2 separate regions of the Homo sapiens genome follow, and region 1 is linked to region 2. Evidence: fine-mapped expression QTL. Tissue or cell type: whole blood. Region 2 holds a variant in brackets; the other region holds the start of a gene. All regions are shown on one strand. Distances are between the middles of the regions.

Region 1 (8,094 bases), 110 kb after region 2:
GCCCTGTAGCAATGATCCTGACTGATGAACGTTTGACCACAGTCCAAGGGCATTGGCAGGACTAAACCCAAAAAAGACGTTCTCAATTTACATTCCACTAAGGCTTGGAACACCAAGTATTCATGAATTTAAGGCAAAGATCGTACTAACTAAAAATAATATCCCAAATGCTAAAATTTACATGAAAAACATAACCAGTTTTTGACGGGTAGTTTATCGCAGTTATCCTGACACAATGAGTATGCAAATTCCATTCAAAAACTGTGCATCAGGTATTGAAGTTGCTGTACATTAGAGATAGCATATTTGGGTTGGGCGCAGTGGCTCACGCCCGTAATCCCAGAACTTCAGGAGGCCAAGGTGGGGGGATCACTTGAGCCCAGGAGTTTGAGACCAGCCTGGGTGACAAAAATTAGCTGGGCGTGATGGCATGCACCGGTAGTCCCAGCTACTTGGGAGGCTGAGGTGGGAGAATTGCTCGAGCCTGGGATGTGAAGCCGTGATCGAGCCACTGCATTCCAGCCTGGGCAACAGAGAGGACTGTCTCAAAAAAATAACAATAAACAAAATAAAGGAAATACGTTTGTAGAAAGCAGAATTAACTTTAAAAAAAACTTAAAAAATCTCCAGGGGGCCAGGCATGATGGCTCACACCTGTAATCCCAGCACTTTGGGAGCCAAGACAGGTAGATCACTTAAGTCCAGGAGTTCAAGACCAGCCTGGGAAACATGGCAGAACCCTGTCTCTACAAAAAGCACAAAAATTAGCCAGGCATGCCTGTAGTCCCAGCTACTTGGGAGCTACTTAGGAAGCTGAAGCAGGAGAATCATTTCAGCCTGGGATGCGGTGGTTGCAGTCAGCCAAGATCGTGCCATTGCACTCCAGCCTAAGCAACAGAGCAAGACCCTGTATCAAAGAAAGAATACACACACACACACACACACACATATACATATACACCTCCAGGTAAAAAAGGACCTCTGTTTTACTTGAGGGTAGCTAATATTTAAGGACACATAAATTATTTCCACACTAGCCTAGCACCTCCAGTCGAAAGATAAAGCCTGATGATAAACATTAGGACCTTATGTACACAGGGAAATAATAATAATATGAGGTGGATGGGATAGGGAAGAGAGCATGAAGCAAGGTTTCTGCTTAGATCACTTCATCACGCAGCAACGTGGCTCCCAAGGGCTAGAAGAGAAACACTACCATCAGGTCTAGGCTTTTATACAATTTCACCTTAGGCCCCAACCTATCAAGCCACACTAGCACTTACCATTAAAAAAAAAAAAAAAAATTAACCCATAAAGGCTATTTAACTTGCCAAGGCTATACTCTTTAGTTATTTTTAGGAAATCTTCAATCTCAACAATAAGACTCTTGAATTTGAAATGTCTCTAATCTGAATGTTACCTTTGACATTGTTGGCAGAAATCCTACAAACATCTGCCATCTAAAATAGGTTAAGAAAGGGCAATAGAAGCTTTGAAACATACCCAAGTATAAAGCAGAATTTAGTTTATAATAAAAATATTTCAAAACAGTGGAATAATCAAATAATCATCTGATAAGTAATTCTGGACAAGTCTCTAAATATTTAGAAGAAACTATAATTAGGGCTCTAGCTCTCATATAACGAAGTAAAATACTGGGTGAATTCAGGGTAATATGTGAAAAAATTAAGAAAAAAATACTAAGAGGAAGCAGAGACTAACATATATAATAATTTGGAGGAATAAGGAAGATATAAAAATTATAACAGAGTTAGAAAATGTAAAAGAAACGGAAAGACCTATCTACCTAAAACACACATGCACACACACTTTTCTCCATGTCAAATATATGTACAAAGTTAAAAGACAAAAAACAGACTGGGGAAAAGAATGCTACATGTGACAGAAAACAACCTTTATATCAGAAAGATGAATTCAGCAACAGATTGCAGCACAGGCAAAGGATTATGAGTATGTAATTTACATCTAAATGTAACTAGCATATAAACATATTTTAAAAGTGCTCAATGTAACTTTAAAGGAATGAAAATAGAAACAGAAAACAGTGAAATGCCTGCTACTTAGTGTTTGTAAGGCAAAATGGGGCCATCATACAATGTTACCAGGACTGTGAATATACATAACATTTCCATGGGGCCAATATGTATCAAAGTTTAAAATGTGCACCACTTCTGGCCCAATAATTCCTCTTTCGGAAATATAAATGAGATCATTTCTCAAAGATGTATGCATATAAATTCATCACAGTGTTCTTTGTAATCTAGATAAATTGGAAACAACCTAAACATCCATCAGTAATAATAAATAAATCTTGGTACCTGGTAAACTAAAATATCATGCATCTATTACAAATGATGTAGAGATCATACAGATATTGACATGCAAAAAACGGTCAAGACATTTTACAGGACAGTTCCATGTGAACAGGGGCCTTGTATGTTTGTTCTTCACTCTTCCAGCAACTAGAACAGTGCCTTGCACAAAACGGCTTTTCAATAAACATTTATTAAACAGATGAACTTTAAAGCAGGTTACAGAACAATAATCATAATATAGTCCTTTTCTCTCTTCCCTCTTCCCCTCCCTCCTTCTCTCTCTCTCACACACACACACAGATTGGAAGGATAGTCACAAAAGGTTAACAAGGTAATGTAGTTTTGGTGTGTGCATATTTTAATTTTCTCCATCTCTCTCTATTGCATAAATTCCTTACACAGTAAGCATTTTTTATTTTTATGACGGTAAAAAGTAACAATTTTTTTAAAGAAAAAGAACTCACATATTTTAAATGAACTCCAGAATGTGCTGTGACTAAGCTCACCAACTCCAAAAACTAAAGTCAACAATATCCAAGTGGCATGTTTTCTTTCACTTTCAAAGAAATATCAGTATAACCTGTACCAGCATCATCTTTCTCAGTACCAGGAAATGCCACACTATACTAATAAAATACAGTGTTTCCAAAAGCAAAGGCACACTTTTTCCGCAGTAAAAAGGAAAAAAAAAAAACCAAAAAACTAAAAGTAACTAATTTCTTAAAGTCTCTTCCACTAACATACACTCTATTCTAGTTCATGGTAACGATTACTATATACAATTGCTCTTTTCTCCCCCCAGACTAAAAATCCAAGTGAATCGATATCAGTAATGTGCTCTATATAATTTTTTCATTTCTTTACAGAGGCAGATTTCACCTTAAACAGTGGATATACCAAACTAGCCACATAACCCATGTCTCTATTCACGCCATCACCCAGTTCTATTTTACTTACACGCTTCGTCACAATCTCATAACCTTATTTAGATTTTATCTGCTCCTTCCTTCTAGAATGTAAGACTCATGAGGACAGGAATTCTGTCCTGCTCACCACCATGTCCCCTGGCCAATAACAGTGAATGGTATCTAGTAGGCCTCAAGAAGTATTTGTTAAACAAAAATGAAAAGATGTGGCCGGCACGGGGAGAGTACAAATCTACATAAAACAATAAAACGAGGAACTGAAAAAAGGAAAGAAAACCACGCTGAGATGTACAAGCTGACAGGACTCAAAGCTATCATGCCAGCTCGGAGGTTTGGTGGACATTTTTCAGGGTGGACAGGTGCTTCACACCTATCTAAGCGCATAGAGCCCTTCCAGGAAGAAGAAAATCCACAGAGAGGTGTCCAGATAGCTGTGAGCAGCTCCCAGAAAAGTGGACACAATCACCACCCTAACAGAAACGTGGCCCAGGTCGGGAGAAAAAAACAATACACCATACATCTCGGCCCAGATGAAAAATTACACGAATCCCCAGCACAATCAAACCAAGCCACCACCTTCAGCCTGACACGTAAGAGCAGTCTCCTTTAGCCTGGCTGGGCAGTCGCCTGCAACCCAGCAAACCCTTCCCACGCCCAACACTTTTCCCTCGCAAAGACCACCGCCACCGCCGGTCCGAGGGGCGAGGGAACGGGGGGAACAGCCTGACGATCAGCTTTCTCCACCCCCGCCCGAGCCCAGTCCCCTTCAAAGCGCAAACGTTTCCCATTCTCGCCTGTCTCCGAGGCCCGGACCCCTGCCCCGAGCCCCTCCTGCGGTCCCTCACTCACGTGTAGATGATAGCCATGAAATGCATCAGCCACAGCACCAAGAAGAGGACGAACCCGAAGACGGCCATTCCCTCCAAGGCCAGGTCCAGCAGCGCCATCCCCCGGCCCGCCGGACCGGCCCGGCCCGCTGCGGCCGCCAACACGGACAACGCTCCCGCAGGAGGAGGACAGGGTGGGCGCCCGGTGCGGGGGCGCGGGAGGCGAGAGGAAGGTGGGGAGAGGAAAGGGCGGAGGGGGGTGGGGACGGAAGGGGCGGGCAGGGCCTGCGCGCCCCCGCCCGCGCGCTCTCGCCTGCGCGCTGTCTTCGGCGCGCTCGCGGGCGGCTGCGGGTGCTGCGGTCTCCCGGCTCTGGTCGGGGCGACCGCGGTCCCGCGCTCCGGTTCGCCTCTCCCGAGCCTCGCGGCCGCCCACCAGACCCTGCGCGCGGGCACCTCCGCCGCCTCTCCGTCTCGCCGCCGGGCTCCCGGCCGAGCAGCTCCACCGCCGCAGCTCCGCGCACTAATCAAAACCGGCGGCTCGCGCCCCACTCCTCGGCGCGTCCCGCCCCCGGAACCGCGGCGCCCGCCTCTCCCAGGGGCGGTGCCCCCATCGGTCCACGCCCACCCTGTCGCCCGCGCGCCCGCTGCGGCGCCGGCGAGAGCGCGCCGGGGAGATCGTGTCCTGCTGCCCGCAGGACGCAGGCCGGGCTTCCTCCGGCTCCTCGCTCCCGCTGCCGCCCACCTAGGCGGAAAGCGCTGCAGCCCTGGGCCGGGCTCCCTCGGTGTCGGTGGCAGCTCGGGACCCTGTGCCTGGCTGGAGGCTGCTCTCTCTCCGTCTGGCCCTGCTGTTCCTGGGTGCCCCAGAAAAAGACACGGGTTCCGGGCAGCTGCCGGAGCTTGTCTAGAAATCCAACTTCCAACGCCGCGTCTGCAGCCTCCCCGCCGGGCACTGCTACTGCTCGGAGCAGCCAGGCCCTCCAGGCCACGTTCCTGGGCGCAAGGGATGCCCATTGCCTTCCCTCTTACTGCTTTTAATGCTGTGGGATCTTGGATCAAAAGGGACCGGAGAGTAAAATAATCTCCATGCGCCTCACAGATCTCTAAGCGCCTTAGCGACCGTGTGTATTATAAAAAGAAATTCTCAAATTCAGAATTAAAGAATCAGTTGATATTGAAATTCCCTAAGACTGCCATCCAATACGGTAGCCGCATGTGGCTAAGTGAGGGTTGGAAAGGCAGCTTGCCACTCTGTGGAGTAAACAGTACACCAGATGTGGAAGACCATCTCGTTAGTAAATTTTATATTGATTGCATGTTGAAAAGGTAATATTTTGGACATACTACATTAAATTAGGTAAATTATTAAGTTAATTTCTCTTTTTAAATACTTTGGCTAGCTACTAGAAAATTTTAATTGTACGTGTGGACAGCACAGCTCTAAAATGGGAAGAAATGTCACTTTGGGTAGTAAGGTAACTAAGTATTTGTCCTAATTTTAAGTCATCCCAAGAAGATGCTAGTACTCAATGTTTGTGTTTCTTCAATCTAGATGAGTTTATACTATTTCTGCATTGTTTTATGTTTATTGTTGCAAGTGATTTCCTTTTAAATAATCCATGACCTCCCTTGAGATATTTCAGAATTGAATTCAATTTTGAAAAGAAGTTGTGGCTGGGCGCGGTGGCTCACACCTGTAGTCCCAGCACTTTGGGAGGCGGAGGCAGGTGGAGCATGAGGTCAGGAGTTCAAGACCGGCCTGGCCTAGATGGTGAAACCCCGTCTCTACTAAAAATACAAAGAATTAGCCGGGCGTGGTGGCAGGCGCCTGTAATCCCAGCTACTCCGGAGGCTGAGGCAGAGAATTGCTTAAACCTGGAGGGGCGGAGGTTGCAGTGAGCCGAGATCGCGCCACTGCACTCCAGCCTGGGCGACAGAGCGAGACTCTGTCTCGAAAAAAAATAGATGAATTTAAAAAAAAGAAAAGAAGTTGTTTATTATTGCTGTTTATGGTAGTTAATAGTCACTGAATGATCTACCTCAATCTGCAATTAAATGACAAACTACAACTAGAAGAGTTAATGTCCGAACCATTCCTCGATTAACATCCTTGGCTCCACTGGTGCAGAATCAGTGGGAAAGAACAATGCTTCAAAATCAAATTCCCACTGTTGAGAGTTACTGGCTGATAAAAATAGCAGGATGGAGGGCCAGGCGCAGTGGCTCATGCCTGTAATCCCAGCAGTTTGGGAGACTCAGGTAGGAGGATTGCTTGAGGCCAGGAGTTTGAGACCAGCCTGGGCAACATGATGAAACCCTGTCTCTACAAAAAAAAAAAAAAAAAAAAATTAGCCAGGCATGGTTATGGCACCTATAGTCCCAGCTACCGGGAAGGCTGAGGTGGTAGGATCACCTGATCCTGGGAAGTGGCGGCTGCAGTGAGCTGTGATCGCGCCACTTAACTCCAGCCTGGGTGACAGTGAGTCCCTGTCTTAAAAAAAAGTGGAATAGAATTCTAACATCGAAATAACGTTCCAAACAAAAATTTACGATTGTAGTTAATTCTAAGGCACACTTCAAAAAAACACTTTAACAAATTTTAATTTCTCTGAAATGGGAATGCATCTCACAGTCAATGCCATCTTAGAGTTAATTGGCGTTTTTTCTTTTTTTTTTTTTTTTTTTTGAGGTGGAGTCTCGCTCTGTCGCCAAGGCTGGAGTGCAGTGGCGTGATCTAGGCTCACAGGAACCTCCGCCTCCTGAGTTCAAGCAATTCTCCTGTCTCACCCTCCCCAGTAGCTGGGACTACATTTGCACACCACCACACCCGGCTAATTTTTGTGTTTTTAGTAGAGACGGGGTTTCACCATATTGTTCAGGCTAGTCTCGAACTCCTGACCTCGTGATCCACCTGCCTCGGCCTCCCAAAGTGCTGGGATTACAGGCGTGAGTCACCGTGCCCAGCCAATGGCTTGTGGTTTTCTTTTACTCAAATATAAAATAATAGTGCATCTTAGTGATATATAAAATAATGCTGCATCTTATCATTAAATGCCCTCTTAGATTTGAGGAACACCAATTGCTTAATTTAAGCATTGTTTTATATTCTGCATTTTTTCAAAAATGTTTTCTGGAACCTTACAACAAAGGATTTTATACAGTATGACCAATAACACAAAAAAAGAGGCCAAAGAAATGTGAAAGTAGATATTCTTAAGAGTTAACAAATTTGCTAAATTGAGTATAATCAGTAGATTAAAGATCAGTTATATTATACTTGACCCTAGTTAAACTATGTTTACCCAAACTTCGTTTTAAAACAGCTTTAGAAAAGGGAAGAGTATGAAGACAGTATAAAGATCTGTGGTTGCCATGGAGCAGAGGAAAGAGGGACAAATAGATGACAGGATTTTTAGGGCTGTGAGTGAAACTATTCTGTATGATCCTATAATAGTGTATACATGTCATATATTTGGCAAACCCCGTAGAAAATACACCACCAAGAGTGAACCCTAATGTAAGCTATGGACTTTAGGTGATAATGGTGTGTTAATGTAGGTCCATCAGTTGTAACGAATATGGTGCTCTGGTGCAAGATGTTAATAGTGGAGGAGGCTGGTGGAGGGAATGGCAGTGGGTATATGGGAACCTTCTGTACTTTCTGCTCAGTTTTGCTGTGAACCTAAAACTACTCTAAAAAGTAAATTCTTAAAAAAAATTAGTGAGTGTTCCACTAAAGGTGTTCTACTTATATATGTATACAAATATGTGTATAACATTGGAAATGCTATAAATGTCTGAATAAGATATACCAGTTTGCGGCTGGGCGCGGTGGCTCAGGCCTGTAATTGCAGCACTGTGGGAGGCCAAGGTGGGAGGATCTCAAGCCAGCCTGGGCAACATGGCGAAACCCTGTTTCTACAAAAAATAGAAAAATTAGCTGGGCGTGGTGGCAGGCAACGTGGTAAAACCCTGTTTCTACAAAAAATACAAAATCTAGCCAGGCAT
Region 2 (8,107 bases):
GGTAGGTGAGCCATACTGGACAAGAATCAGCACGACCCGGGTTCGAACTCTGGTTCTTCCACTGGCTGTATGACCACTGCCGATCATTAACATTTTCAAGCCTTCATTTCCTCATCTGCAAAATTCCAGCAACAACCCCTATGCCTCCAGAAGTGTGAGAATTAAATGAGATAGTGCCTGAAAGTGCATTTTAGGACCACCTCTGTCTCCTTTGCGGTCCAACGCAGGAGGCATACAAAATTGCTGACGCTCCTGTCTGTGGCTACCACACTGCGGGCAAGATAAGGCCTAGCTTTGGAAAAAACACTTTGCACCACGCATTTTCCCCTTCTTTGGAGGGTTGTAACTAGTCCTGAGAATTAATACCATTCTCTCACCCTCCCACTGTGCCTCTAACAAACACAGCATAATCTCATGATCATAGCTGTGATGGGAATACCCAAGAGAACAGCGGGGGGAGAGTCTGAATGGGATCAGATGTCAGAGTGGGGGGCGGCCTGGAGAGGCCCCAAGGCCAGGAAGAGGAGCAGAGCTGACCGATGCTTCCACTGATGCTGCAAGCTGATGCACACTCGGAGCCCCCAACCCTTTTGGAGTACACTGGTATCTGCCACCCAGCCACCAGTGCCATGGCTGATAATGTGACTTTGCGTGAGATGTGACAGTTGCCTCTCTGCTCCTGCTTGGCCCTGGCTTTTGTGTAATCTCATTGGAAAGAGAGCCGATTATCCTTGAGAGGCCAAACAAATCTCAGGATGTACATCCTGCAGAGACAGGCTAATTTCACAACCCTCCAAGTTTATTTATTTTTTTTAAAAAAAGGAGATATTATTTGTACTTCTTCCCGTGAAATGTGCTCTGTGCAGTTACTTTGATTACCTCCTTCAACCACTTAGCTGCTTCACCTCTCTGAACCAGCTCCTTCGGAGGGATGTCGCCTCCATCGGATGGGGCAGGATCAGAGGCTGGGAGTCAGAAATCTTGTTTTCTGGCTTTGCCCTAATCCTGCTTTTATACTCTTTTCTGTTCCTTTTCCACAATGAAAGACTGAAATAGAGGCATTGTCCACCTCTAAGATTGCTGTGAGGAAGTCCCTGGGGAGGTACGTTGACAGGAGCCAGGCTGACCTTGTACCAATTCCTCGTCTAAGACACTTACAGGAAGTCGTTCTGGCGTGAGAAGAGGCTACTTTGGGGAAGAGGCTGAGTTCACCCTGGAGCCCCAGCCTGCACCTTGCACTGCCATTTTCTTCTCCATCGCAGTCTCTGCCAAGAGTCTCCGCCAAGAGTCTCCCTGCTTCCAGGCATGTTTGACAGACTGTGTGCCGGTGGAATCATCCCGTGAGGCCTTCATGGCTGGGGCAGGTCCCCCTTTAAAGGATCTTTGTAGTGGATCCATCCTCAGCGTTCTGAGGCACAATAGGTGGTTATCCTCCCTCCTGCACCTGCAATCTCTCCTCCAAGAGAGCATTTTTATCAACATGAAAACATGCTCTCTGCTTCCAGGTCCAAAAACAAACACATAAAAACCCAGAATAGGCTGAGTGCAGTGGCTCATGCCTGTAATCCCAGCACTTTGGGAAGCTGAGGCGGGAGAATTGCTTGAGCCCAGGAGTTAAAGACCACCCTGGGCAACTTGGCGAAACCCCGTCTCTACAGAAATACAAAAACATTAGCTGTGTGTGGTGGTGCGTGCCTGGGGTCCCAGCTACTCGGGAGGCTGAGGTGAGAGGATCACTTGATCCTGGAGAGGTTGAAGCTGCAGTGAGCTATGATTGTGCCCCTGCACTCCAGCCTGGGCAACAGAGTGAGACCCTTTCTAAAAACGACATAAAACGAAAAAAAACTCAAATAACCCGCCTTAGAGCCCATGTTCCTCTTTTTTTTTTTTTTTTTTTTTTTTTTTGAGACAGAGTCTCACTCATCACCCAGGCTGGAGTGCAGTGGCGTGATCTCTGCTCACTGCAACCTCTGCCCCCCAGGTTCAAGCGATTCTCCTGTCTCAGCCTCCAGAGTAGCTGGGATTACAGCTGCCCACCATCACCCTAGCTAATTTTTGTATTTTTAGTAGAGACAGGGTTTCACCATGTTGGCCAGGCTGGTCTCGAACTCCTGACCTCAGGTGATCCGCCTGCCTTGGCCCCTGAAAGTGCTGGGATTACAGGTGTGAGCCACCATGCCCAGTGAATGCTCCTCTTTGGATGCGACTCATTTTCTCTATTCTCCTTTTCAGCCAAACTTCTTGAGAGTGTCAGTTACCCTGACTGCCTCCACCCCACCCACTCTGCCTCCTATTCCACCTGCAACCCATAGCAGTGTGGTTTCTAGCTGAGGCTTCTTGCCATCAAAACTTCTCTCCTGAAGCTTGCTTTCTTGCAGTTCTCACCTTATTTGATCACTGTTGATTCCTCTCTTGTTTTTTTCAGTCTGCTTTCCTTTGGGCCCCATGACATCTCACAATCCTGGGTTTTTCTCTTACTTCTCTGGCCACTTTTTCTTAGTCTCTAATTCCTTGGCTTTATATGCCATCAGAGAGCACACTTCTTACAACAGAATGGCTCTTCGCAGTGTGGGAGCAGTTGGCTCTGATGTGTAAGGCCAGGTTGGGTCAGGATAAGCCCAGGGAAGAGGAAAACTGGGTTTTCAGCCCATGGGAATCACTGAAGAAGCAGCTCAACCAACCCTCTTTTCTCATCTGAGAAAGCCACTCATTGGGGGCTGTCGAAGGGGGATAGACTGTGACGGGGTCTGTGAACTGGGGATCCTTGATTGGCCCAGGGCCCCCCCAAGTGGGGATCTCTCAGTCAGATGGGTTAGCTTTGGCTCTCAAAATACATTATTTGCCCAGGAGTGGTGGTGCATACCTGTAGTCTCAGCTACTCGAAAGGCTGAGGCAGGAGGATTGCTTGAGCCCAGGAATTTCTGGGCTATCGTGTACTACGAGTGCACCCATGGACCACTGCACTGCAGCCTGGGCAACATAGTAAGACCTCACCTCTTAAAAAAATGATCTGAATGATTCCATTTATGTGAAATATCGAGAATAGGCAAATCATAGAGATAGAAAGCAAATCAGTGGTTTCCAAGTTCTGGAAGAGAGAGTGGGAAATGACTGCTTAATGGGTATGAAGTTTCCTTTCAAGGTAATGAAGATTTCTGCAATGAAATAGTAGTGATGGTTATACAGCATTGTGAATGTACCAGGTGTTAACTAATGTCTAAAAAAAAAAATCATGACCAGGTGTGGTGGCTCATATCTGTAATCCCAGCACTTTGGGCGGCTGAGGTGGGTGGATCTCCTGATGTCAGGGGTTTGAAACGAGCCTGGTCAATATGGCAAAACCCCGTCTCTACTAAAACTACAAAATTAGCTGGGCGTGGTGGTGCATGCCTGTAATCCCAGCTATTTGGGAGGCTGAGGCAGGTGAATGGCTTGAACCTGGGAGGTGGAGGTTGCAGTGAGCCAAAATTGCGCCATTGCACTCCAGCCTGGGCAAAAAGATTGAAACTCCGTCTCAAAAAAAAAAAAAAAAAAATCATCTGGGGTTTACCCCTGAAGAGGAACCACCACTGCTGAATTAAGTCACCTAGACCAGCGATGCACTCAAGGTCAACCATGATGAGGAGATAAGGAACTCTAACCTGGAAATGACTCTTCCCACCAAAACAATTGGAAACCACACTTTCCCATAATACAGAATGTGCTATTCCATAAGATAGCCGTAAGAGGACTTCTAAATTATATTAATTAACAGTGAACTGTGTGGTGTGACCATAGAATACACGCTTACAGTTGCTTTTTGTTTTTGTTTTTGAGACATAATCTCGCTCTGTTGCCCAGGCTGGAGTGCAGTGGTGCAATCCTGGCTCACTGCAACCTCAGCTTCTTAGGTTCAAGCGATTCTCCTGCCTCAGCCTCCTGAGTAGCTGGGATTACAAGCATGCGTCACCACGTCCAGCTAATTTTTGTATTTTTAGTAGAGATATGGTTTCACCATGTGGGCCAGGCTGGTCTGGAACTCCTGACCTCACGTGATCCACTTGCCTCAGCCTCCCAAAGTGCTAGGATTACAGGCGTGAGTCACCACGCCCGGCCAGTTGTTTTATAAACTATTTTTTCTTTCAAACTGGTATTTATGTGACTATGATGAGGTCAGATTTAACGTTTTGGTGGAGCGTTCTGATAGCCTGAACTGAGGCTGAGGAAGAAAGCTAATTTGAAATATCTAAGGCCTTGAACTGTCAGGACTCTGTAACCTTTTGGAGAAGTCTAGAATTACCCTTGACAAGTGAGGTGAGTGAACACTGCACTGTGCGAGTCCTTAACAGATGTTGTCTCATTGTATTTCTCACAGCAACCCTATGAGGGGACACAGGACAGCTGGGATCTGAACTAAGTATTTATGAGTCTGTGAGCCTACGTGAGTCCATCAACCAGAACTGGCCAGGAGAAGAAGCTGCTGGTGCCCTAGGGGTTCTGCTTGTGGATGCGAGCGCATTCATGATGGCATTTATCTTACTGGGCCTCCAGTCTGGTGTGGCTGCAGGAGACGTGAGCTACATGCTCAGCCTGTCTGGAACCTTGACGTTTTTCTGTCTCGC[G/A]GATGAACAAAACTTCTAGAGTTTGCTTACTTGTCAATTTCCCCCTCACTTCATTTCCTGACTTGTAAACAGGCAGGATGAGAGCAGGTGACTGGCACTTATGATAACCCAAGAGCTCTGCTGTGCTCAGCATATCCTGTTATTATAGGCCTCCAGTCTGCTTTGATATCTACCGTCCAATTTTCCCTCCTTTTCCCGGAACTGTAGTTAGGGGAGGGATTGGATTTATGGGGATAAAAATTTAAATTTTCCAGCCTGGGCAACATGATGAAACCTCATCTGTACAAAAAATACAAAAATTAGCTGGGTGTGGTGGAGCATGCCTGTAGTCCCAGCTACTTGGGAGGCTGAGGTATGACGATTTCTTGAGCCTGGGAGGCCGAGGCTGCAGTTAAGCCATGATCATGCTACTACATTCCAGCCTGGGCAATAGAGTGAGACTCTGTCTCAGAAAAGAATTCAACTTTTCACTGTGGGAGTCAGTGTGGTGTAATTCATGAGTCTTGGAACTGGCACTGGATTTAAATTCTAGTTTTAACAGGAAACTGAATTTCCCATCCTTACCTGGACGGAAAAATATTGAACTCAGGCCAGGCATGGTAGCTCACACCTGTAATCCCAGCGCTTTTGGAGGCTGAGGTGGGTGGATCACCTAAGGTCAGGAGTTCAAGACCAGCCTAGTCAGCATGGTGAAACCAAGTCTCTACTAAAACTACAAAAATTCGCCGGGCGTGGTGGTGTGGGCTTGTAGTCCTAGCTACTTGGGAGGCTGAGGCAGGAGAATCCCTTGAACCAGGGAGGCAGAGGTTGCAGTGAGCCGAGATCATGCCACTGCACTCCAGCCTGGGTGACAAAGCGAGACTCCGTCTCAAAAAAAAAAATATATATATATGTATACACACACACACACACACACACACACACACACACGCATATATCTCAGAGTAATTCATGAGGCCTAAATAAAATAATTGGAAAAGACTCAATATATGATGGTGCTCATGGTGAACAGGATGGGATAAATGTAGTAACTTATTAAGAATATGGGGTTCAGTCTGGGCGCGGTGGCTCATGCCTGTAATCTCAGCACTTTGGGAGGCCGAGGCAGGCGGATCACTTGAGGTCAGGGGTTTGAGACCAGCCTGGCCAACAAGATGAAACCCCATCTCTAGTAAAAATACAAAAATGAGCTGGGCGTGGTGGCGGGCGCCTGTAATCCCAGCTACTTGGGAGGCTGAGGCAGACAATCGCTTGAACCTGGAAGGTGGAGGTTGCAGTGAGCTAAGATCATGCCACTGCCCTCCAGCCTGGGTGACAGAGCAAGACTCTGGATCAAAAAAAAAAAAAGTGGGGTTCAGGTGGAAATAGGGGGAGGCAGGGCCCTGCTTCTTCCTCCTTGAGTGAAGCAGGACGGTTTCAGGACTCCGCCTTTCTTCTTCTCTCTTCCAGAGTTCGCTCCTGGCCCAGCACCTTCAACCCAGCCCCTTACTTTATAGGCTTTGCCCCTTCTCCTGCACCAAGGCCGAGGGTTGGCATGGCTTGCTGTAAGTGTGTGGGGCCTAAAATTGGGAAAAATAATAAAATATGTGGTTTGTTCTTGGTGCAACTAATGTACTGAATTTAGTCCTTTCTCTCCTTAGGGTAAGCTTTCCCTCGAAGTACCCTGATCTCTCCTTTCCATAGTCCCCTCCACACACACACACCCATTCCCAACCCTCAGCTTCCAGAAAGTGTGTGAATCAGGCCAGCTCCCTCCAGCGGTAGCCTCAGTCCCACCACAGCATGCTCTCAGTTGCTCAAGAAATGACCAGTGGAGCGGGTATCAGTAGAGAGAGTCAACAGATAATTCCTTGCTTCACTTATTAACCAGAATAAAGAAATCAGCTTGGTACTTGGATTACAGTATTTCTCAATTTCCTTCTATATTTCCTTCTGTATCAGCCATTTGAATGATACCACCCAGAATAATAGGCCAAGTGAAATGGCTCATGCCTGTAATCCCAGCACTTTGGGAGGCCAAGGTGGGTGGATTCCCTGAGGTCGGGAGATCGAGACCGGCCTGGACAGCATGGCAAAACCTCATCTTTACTATAAATACAAAAATTAGCCCGGCGTGGTAGTGCACGCCTGTAATCCCTGCTACTGGGGAGGCTGAGGTATGAGAATTGCTTGAACCCGGGAGGCAGAGGTTGCAATGAGCCGAGATCGTGTCACTGCACTGCAGCCTGGGCAACAGAGTGAGATTGTCTCAAAAAAAAAAGAAGAAGAATATCAGCTAGCATATATTAAACATACACTGTGTTTTTAGAACTGTTCTAGGATATTTAGGGTGTTAACTGTATTAACTCAATTAGCAACAACTCCGTGAATTTGAGACAATTATTTCTCTATCTTACAAATAAAGAAACAGAGGCACCGAAAGGTCAAATCACTCATTCAAGGTCATACAACTGGTTAGTGGTAAACCGAGAATCAAACCCAGGGTGTTTAACTCTACCTCCTGGGCTTTTAACATTGCATTAGGGCAGAATAGAGTATAGGAAAAGACTTTCAGTCAAGTGTTAGGGTCTGAATTTTGGGTCATAACTCAAAGGTCAATAGCTACTGGGATGTAATCAACATATTGTTATTTGCATATATCTATAATCAGAGCTTGTGAGTCATGCTATACATTAGTGAGGCCAACTTTGGAAAATATAATTTGCTCCAACATATTTGAAGATGTTACAAAAATTAGGACCTTTATATAAGATTTTAAAATATGTTCTACCAATAAAAAGAGAGTAAAATTTACTCACAAAATTTCCTTCTTATCTGGGTTCCACTTATACCTTCCAAGCATCACCTATCTCGAGCAGGTGGCTCCAAAGCCATAGTTCTCATATACAGAGAAATTAAAAAGACCATATAAGTAATTTCTGCTTTCAAACTTACATACTCTCTACATTAAAAAATGTATTTCAATCCCTTACCTGATACTTAAAAACTTAGAGAAGGGGAAAATTAGCTTCAATCTTAAGATTTAGAGAGGCCAAACCTTTCTGGGTATCCCATCTTCGGGTGGGTAGCAGTAATGAGGGAGCATGACTGTATACTTGTCCCCGTACACTCCCAGCATCTGCTGGGTCGGGCCTGTGCTCTCTGAATATTTGGTAACATGGCAGCTCCTATCTTCCAGCTACTGCCCTCTGAAAGCCTGCCAAGAGCATTCCTGGTGACATCTTGTGCAACCTACAAACTCTTCTTATAGCACAGGCTCTGCTATGACATGGACCAGAGCAAAGGTAGACACTGCAAAATTATTTCTTCCCAGTGAGGCAAGTATGATTGAGCACATATCCTTGCTCTGTTTACTGGAGAAACAGACTGATCAACTGGCATGAAATATTGAAACATGAAACTTACACTACCATTAGAAAAAAATCAGTCCTAACTGCAAAGATCGTGAAAATGAATTTGAAAGCATAGTGCAGCACGGTTGAAAGAGGAATATAATAATATCAGTC

The links. PIP is the estimated chance that this variant, and not a neighbour inherited with it, causes the effect.
Region 1: UGCG starts here. The variant in region 2 is fine-mapped to the expression of UGCG in whole blood (INTERVAL, PIP 0.91).

The regions. Positions count from the first base shown.
Region 1 is chr9:111,893,331-111,901,424 of GRCh38, reverse strand. It overlaps UGCG (UDP-glucose ceramide glucosyltransferase), which reads right to left and starts at 4,611. Exons shown (of 9, transcript NM_003358.3): 1 at 4,112-4,611. The coding sequence starts at 4,209. RefSeq lists silencers at 4,167-4,256, 4,367-4,956 and an enhancer at 4,577-5,160.
Region 2 is chr9:111,999,210-112,007,316 of GRCh38, reverse strand. No RefSeq gene overlaps it. Among named protein-coding and RNA genes, the nearest start is that of LINC02977, 37 kb to the left of the region's middle. The variant G/A (reference allele first, on the strand shown) is at 4,602.